2 linked regions of the Homo sapiens genome follow. The protein of the gene in region 2 purifies or fractionates together with the protein of the main gene of each other region. This does not show direct contact. Each region holds a gene or a part of one and is shown on either strand. Other genes may lie near its edges.

Evidence for each region. The genes of interacting proteins can lie anywhere in the genome.
Region 1: the proteins of ZNF641 (region 2) and PPM1H purify together in Homo sapiens (affinity purification with mass spectrometry; one large-scale study listed by BioGRID and IntAct). This does not show direct contact.

The regions. Positions count from the first base shown.
Region 1 is NC_000012.12:62,925,151-62,928,650, forward strand, and holds part of PPM1H (protein phosphatase 1H), read right to left. Parts: intron 1-3,500. UniProt on the Homo sapiens protein: Dephosphorylates CDKN1B at 'Thr-187', thus removing a signal for proteasomal degradation.
Region 2 is NC_000012.12:48,348,120-48,352,365, reverse strand, and holds the start of ZNF641 (zinc finger protein 641), read left to right. Parts: upstream 1-1,446; 5' UTR 1,447-1,580; intron 1,581-1,649; exon of another isoform or gene 1,650-2,303; coding exon of another isoform or gene 2,304-2,320; intron 2,321-4,246. UniProt on the Homo sapiens protein: Transcriptional activator. Activates transcriptional activities of SRE and AP-1.

The DNA.
Region 1 (3,500 bases), about 15 Mb from region 2:
ATATCTTAGACTAATTAAAAAAGGGGAAACTATAGAAGTTGAACTTTTGTTTTATAAAATAAACATCCATTCACCAAATATGTCTGTCATTACCCTACCTGCCTAGACAAATGAGATGAGCAAAAGAAATAAAATAACAGGGAGCAGGTGGGGTACAGTGACTCACACCTGCAATCCCAGCATTTTGGGAGGCCAAGGTGGGTGCATTACTTGAGGCCAGGAGTTCAAGACCAGCCTGGGCAACATGAGGAAACTCGTCCCTACTAAAAATACAAAAATTAGCCAGGCGTGGTGGCATGTGCCTGTAGTCATAGCTACTCGGGAGGCTGAGGCATGAGAATTGCTGGAACTGGGGAGGCAGGTGTTGTAGTGAGCCAAGATTGTGCCACTGCACTTCAACCTGGGTGACAGAGCGAGACTATCTCAAAAAAACAAACAAATGAACAAACAACAATGAGCAGAGCTCTGGTGTGTCATGCTAGCCAGGTTTATACCCCTGTGGCTGAAGAGCTACATCATCTTATATTAACATGTAATACTCATTTATTGGTACAAACCTTCAAGCCATATAGCCATATTTAGTTCCAAAGCTGGCCTGAGTCTTTATCCCTTCTATGGCATTTTTGGGGCAGTTTTGAATTCCTAGCCTAGACAGCTCCCCAAGGTCTGCAAGGCAGGGCAGCAGGCACATTCAGACACAAACACTATTTGCCTGTTGACACATTTGTCTATTTGGTCATTTCATCTGTCTTCTAATATGTGCCTGAAACAAATAAGGTACTCAAATATTTGTTGACTGAGTTATCTATAGTAGTAGAATCTTCGAAACTATCTGCCCAGCCCTAACTACCACCACCTCCTTTTTAAAGAACTGCCCATTTTCAGGGGTGGGTCCTGGCAGCCATAATCACCTGTGGAGAAGGTGGACATCTGAGACAAACTGAACCTATTGGAGTCTCTCTCCCAAAAATTCAAAATTGGAATTGAAGCCACAGTTGATGTGGTCTGGTTGCTTGTTGGTGGCATGGAGAAGTCACCCGTGCCCTGGTGAAAGACTGAAAGAATGGCCACTTTGTTGCTGAATAGCTTTCTAGTTCAGGGTTCCAGTCCCTTGTAAAATCCAAGTTATTCCTATACTTGGGTTCTATAAGACAGTTGGTATCTAATCACCATTTCCTTCCCCCCACCACCCCAAAGTTAGCTCAAAGGCATTTCTATGAGTTGCAACCAAGGGCAGTAAGTAGCTAAAAGGAGTAGGATGGTTATTCTAGTACTTTACATGTTCTAAGCCTGATATGAAATAGAAGCCATAGAGGAGATTAGGTATGACCACCCAAATATTAAATTTTGCATTGCAAAGAAAAAAAATGAAGTTAAAAAATGAACATGTTAGAAAAAATATCACAACATAATAGGCCAAGGGTGAACAGCCTTAAAATATAAAGAGCTCTTATAAATATGAAACATTATCTCAACAGAAAAATGAATATAAACAGGAAAACCGTAAAAAGATCTCTAAATGGGTCAGGTGCGGTGGCTCACTCCTGTAATCCCAGCACTTTGGGAGGCCGAGGTGGGCGGATCACCTGAGGTTGGGAGCTTGAGACCAGCCTGACCAACATGGAGAAACCCCATCTGTACTAAAAATACAAAATTAGCCAGGCATGGTGGCGCATGCCTGTAATCCCAGCTACTCAGGAGGCAGAGGCAGGAGAACTGCTTGCACCCGGGAGGCGGAGGTTGCAGTGAGCCAAGATTGTGCCATTGCACTCCAGCCTGCAGGACAGAGCAAGACTCTGTCTCAAAAAACAACAACAACAACAAAAAGATATTTAAATGGCTAATAAATATCTATAACATATAAGTATATACATCTGTTTATTCATTTTCTTCAATAATCAAACAGATTACAATGAAGTATATTTCATCTATCAGATCACTGACAAATATTAAAGGCTTAATACTAAAGTGGTAGACACTGCTGGCTGCAGTGTGAATTGATACAACCAATCTGATATGTATCACAGTTGTGAATGTGCATAGCTTCTAACCAAGCTTTCCATGTCTAGAAATTAATCATAAGGAAACAACTGAATGAGCTGAAGAAAACATATGAAGATATTCACTAAAAGCCTAAAAGTAAATCTAAATGTTCAATGGGAGATTCATGAATGGGAAGCCCTTCAATGGAATATTAGGCAGTCGACATATAAGAATATATGTTGGAGGCCGGGTGCGGTGGCTCACGCCTGTCATCCCTACATTTTGGGAGGCTGAGGCAGGTGGATCACCTGAGGTCAGGAGTTTAAGACCAGTGTGGCCAACATGAGGAAACCTCATCTCTACTAAAAATACAAAAAAATTACCTGGGTGTGGTGGTGGGCGCCTGTAATCCCAGCTTCTCAGGAGGCTGAGGCAGGAGAATCACTTGAACCCAGGAGGCAGAGGTTGCAGTAAGCCGAGATCGTACCACTGCACTCCAGCCTGGGCAACAAGAGCGAAACTCCGTCTCAAAAAAAAAAAAAGAAAAGAAAAAGAAAAAAGAAAATAATATACGTTGAAGAGGGGACCATTTTATATTCTTAAGTGAAGGAGACATGTTATAAGACATGTAAACATATGATCAGCTTTTATTTTTTTTAAAAAAATACCTATATAAAAAATCTGAGAGACCAAATCTAAAATACTAACAGTGGCTAATGAATTAACAAACATTTTTCACTCTGTTCTTCATATCTTTTACTAGTCTATATTATCTGAATTTCCTATAATGAGTATCTCATGGTTAAAAATGTTTTAAGTATTTCATTAGACACAGTGAAAAACCACCAAAGGTAGGCGTTCCACAGAACTGGATATGAATCCAAGATCTGCCACTTAAAAAGCTTTGTTACTTTGAACAAATAACTTACCTACGTTGCATTCATCTCATTAAATCCTTATACATAAAGTGCTTAATAGAGAACCTACACACAGGACTAGCTCAACAAATGACTATTGCATTTAGCAATTTTTAATGCCTCTAATAAAGTATAAATAGGGATAATCCTATCACTATATGGTATATGGGAGATGGGCCAAACAAATCAAATGCTATACCGTTCTTAAGCTAATAATTTGCAAAGTATCTACTGTAGTACCAAACTGGAAAGCTAGTGAAAACCACTTATCTAAAAAAACAACTTGGGAAAGGCTCCTCAACTCTTTGCCATAACATTATGTTGTATAATTAGGTTCAATCCTGCATCTTTTGCACCATAATTAAGGGCATCTGCTCTCCTTACATGGTCAGTAGGAAACACAGTCAATTATGGAGGGTCACAGAAGTAATGCAGATAAGTCAGAATGAAAATCACAGTTAAATAACTGCAGTCCCACCTACTCTCTCCCCCTTCTCCCCCATCTGCAAGGATGACAAAGATTCTCTCCTCCACCAAACTTGAGTCAGGCCTCTCTTCTCTACTAAGTCACAACGTTGGCGCCAATCCTGTTCCTTAAGC
Region 2 (4,246 bases):
ATAAGCCTTTATGGAGTTAAGCCCCGAGATACTGGTTTTGCTAGCCTACTCCAATTAACGCACCTTATATTTACCACCAGTGGTAGCATAAGTGAAAAGAACCCCTGGACTTAGTTCCAGGACCCGGGATAAAAATTCTGGCTCTACTACTACCCCGACATATCCCATGATCTGCTCCTAGAATATGCTCTATACTCTTCCCAACTGCGTGTCTACTGCATTTTCCTCTTTCATTAGACAGCCCTCCTGACTCTTCTCTGCCTCACGATTTCTGTCAGAGTGGGGGGCCTTCTCTGACCTCCGTCCCATACGTGGTCACTTCTCTTTGCTTCAAGTGCAGCGTACGTTCCTCTGTTTTAGAATCTACGTTTTTATTGCAAATATTTGTTGACATGTGCTTCCCCAGACTGTGAATCCTTTAACTCCCAGCATTTAGTTACAGTGTCTGGCACACGTAGAAAATAAATATGCATTAAACGAATGATTGTCACATATGACCTTAAGTGAGTCAATTATTTTTTAAGTCTACTAAATAAAATTTTTGAAAATTGTTGTAATGATGAAATAAGGAATGTGAATGTGACTTGTAGGTTATAAACAGATTCTAACAGCAATGGGTTTACTCACTGTTTGTAGGCCCTTCTCATCTTTTCTAGTCAAATCCATCTTAATGCTGCAAGGTAGCACTATCCAATAGAAATATAATGCAAGCCATATTTATAGCCACATTTAAAAAGTTAAAACCAGGTGAAATTAATTTTAATATATTTAACCCAATATACCCAAAATATCACTTTTTAAATTAAATCTTCTAAATCTTGGAACACATCTCTATTCAGACCAGCCACATTTCGAGAGCTCAGGTGTCACCTGCGGCTACGGCTCCCGCAAATGGGACAGCAGCCGCAAGGCCAACTTCAGATAGCAACCTGACTTCCCCTCAGGCAGAATAAGTGACTCCTCCTCAGTGCTCTCTCAAGCCCTTTATCCTATCGTGAAAACTAGAGGGTACGCTCCTTGAGGAATTCCAGACTGTTGTCTGGAGAAATCGCTCTCGGCCTCGGTCTGGCCTGTAACGGGCGGTTACGCAATTCCAGGTAATTGACGAACCCTGAGGACAGAACTCCGTGGGAGGCCCAGTAGCCAGAGCGGAAAATGGTCAGTCAGGCAAGAGTGCGGGCAAGTGGCCACAGCAGGCTGCGATTCCGGCGCCCGCCGCCCTCCAAGCGTCTCGGGCCGCACCCTCCCCACAGCGGCGGGCGCGGAGGTCCCGGGTTCGCGTTTGGGGGCGCCTGAGCCGCAGCCCCGCCCCCTCCCGTCCCTCCCTCCCTCCCTCCCTCCCACTCCTCTCCCTCCCACTCCTCTCCCTCCCACTCCCCGCACCTCCGCCGCCGCAGAGCCCCGGAAGCGGGCGGGGATTTCCTGTGCCCGCCCCGCCCCGCCCGCGCCTGCCGGGCCGCCGTCTCCGCCTGTCGCTGGCTCCGCCGGCCGCCGGCTCCCAGACGCAAGCGGAGGGCGGAGGGGAGGGGCAGGCGGCGCCCGGGAGGGAGGCACCGGGCCGCGGGCCAAGCCTACCGGGGGTGAGTGGAGCCGGGCCGGAGGGAGCTGCGGCTGGAGGGAGGGACGCCTGGCTTCCCGGGGCGGCTGGTGGGGGCTCGGTCACCCATAGGGGCTGGGAGGAGGATCGGCGCGTCTTCCGGGTTGCTGCCTTTCCCGGGGGTCTGCCCCGCTGACATTCTGTGCCCGCCTCTCGCCCTGTCTCCCCGTGCCCATCGCAACTGTCAGGCCCTGCGGGCTCCCGCCGCTGTCACTCGCGCACAGGTTACCCCGTGGCTCCCTTTCTCTTCACTTGCTCATGCCCCAGCTCATGGGAAACCTGTTTTCTGACCTCACTTCCCCTGCTCCAGTTCTGCCTTGCTCGGATTCTCTGAAATCTGACCCTTTCCAGGGGCACTGTGACAAGAAGAAGGGAAGAAGCAACCTTACCCCTGAGCAGGCTCCCGTCCCGCCCATGCCCTACCCGTGGCAGGGGCCAGGGTTCTCTGATGGACGGAGCCAACTCGTCCGTGTGCCCTTGGGCTACTCATTTTTATAACATGGCCCCTTTTCTGTTCATCAGCACTGGCTGCAGAAACTTCCTTTTGCAGGTCCCTTGCTACCCATATGTGTGAAGAAAAGGGGGAAATGAAAGCCCTAGAACCCACACTGCAGTGGGCATGGGATCATCCTGGAACCAGGAGAAACGAGGTTAGGGCTACCACCTTAACCGCCCAGGTGCTGGCTCTGCGTGAATATCTTAGGAAATGCAAGCTGAGGACAGGTACCCATCCCATCCTTTGCTGAGATTTTTGCTAGCACTTCCACGGATTTCTGTCAGTGGTATAGAAAAACTTACAGCTGGCCCAATGGGCTCTGCACAAAGAGGCTTCCCATTAAGAGACTCTGCTACCTGGGGGAGATGGAGAAAGGGTTTGAGACAAGTGTCCAGATATGTAGCTAGAGGTAAAGCCTTCAGGGAGGATTTGCACAGGAGCTAGAGAACCAGAAAGATGGGACGAAGAGGGAGAATTAGTGCCCTGTGTGTTAAAAGTGGATACAGAGCTGGAATTCAGAGAAGAGAGCTAAAATGGAAGTTTCCCTTTATTGCTTTAGCAAGAATTTTCCTTTCTCATGAAAAGTCTCTGAAAAGGAAACCTCCTAGGCTGGGAATCAGTCCAGGGTGCTCCCATGAGGCCCTGAGCCATCTTTGGACTTCTGAGATAAAAAGGGAATTTGTTTTTCCTGTGCATTGGGCTTAGGGTTCCCACCTACCTCTTTTGTCAAAGACAAATAGGCAAGAAAATAGACGACTTGACATCTGTGATTACCTACCCTGGCCTTCAAGGTTCTTGCAAGTGTTATTGAAAGGATGTAAGTAAGCCAGGATAGTTACCAAGTTTCTGACTGCTCTTGGAAGCCTTTCACTGACTCTGACTGTTTGGATATTGAATAAGAATACCCAAAATATGTTGCCAAACAGAAAGAGATTCTGAGTCTCAGATTATTTCTCTGCCATAAAGCCCTATCACAACAGAAGTGTGACCCATCCTGCTCTTAAGTTGTCTAAAGAAAAAGAAGAGCCCACTATCTGGTATTGTACACTGCAGGATTATTAAGAATTAAAAAAAAATAACCTAAATCTCTTCTCTTGCAATCAAGACCCATTTTTTTCTGTTTGACCTATATAGAGATAGAAGGGACCTCTGTTTTTATTCATTAGTAGCATCATTCATCAGCCTTCTTCTCCAGACAGAGAAAACTACATCCGACATTTTTAACTTTCCCAGTGGCTGTATTTCCAATCCCTTTCTTGACTTTGATGTTTTCTGATGAACACACACTGGCTTCACCATACGCTTCTTTCAAACTGAATATATTTTTCTAATGAGATCTGACTGGTGCCTGACAAATAAACAGGTTTGTTCTTCTGGGTCATGTTAGCAGCAGTTCTTCCCCCCTTTTCCAGCTCTGGTTCAAACTCTTTCTGTTCCTTTTTACTTTTCCTGATTAAACTTCAGCTCCTCACAGACCAACAATTTCTCTTACCTCTTAGGATTACTTTGGAGTCTTAACACCTGCTTTCCAAGTTATCAGTTTTTCTACCATATTTACTACCAGTTTTCATTGGATGGTAGACCAAGTGCCTTTTTATTGAGGCTTGTCCCAAGTGAGGTACCTTTTGGCCCAGCCTCATGATACAAATACGCCCCTTGGTTGGGACTTTTACCTATAGTAATCATTTCATTCTAAACTGATGAGACTGTGATTTGTGGCAGAAAATCTTCTGTGTGATTACATCCATCTTGTTGAGTGCAGGTCTATATGTATTTCTTCCTGTATGTTTCCAAATTGCTTACTTTCCTGTACTTCATGTGCTTGAAATTAAATGGATAGCCTTTGAATTTCCAGGACAGTTCTTTTTTTTTAAATGAACTTCTTCTAACCTTCAGGTATATTCTGTTTCTATAATGAGGTCCACAAAATACCAGTTAGTGGCTTTGCTACGTAGCACCTGCCAATTTCTTAGTTCCTCCAAGAAGCTTGGTGCAGGCTCCGTTGATCGGAACACATCAAGCTTTTAAAGTTCATCTTCCAGCAAGCTCCTCCTATCTAGTTTTGTCTATTATCCCTGGGCCTGTTCTTCATAACTCCCTTAGAAATATCACTCCTTTCCCATTTTCATGGGCATTGCTGATATGAATTTGTT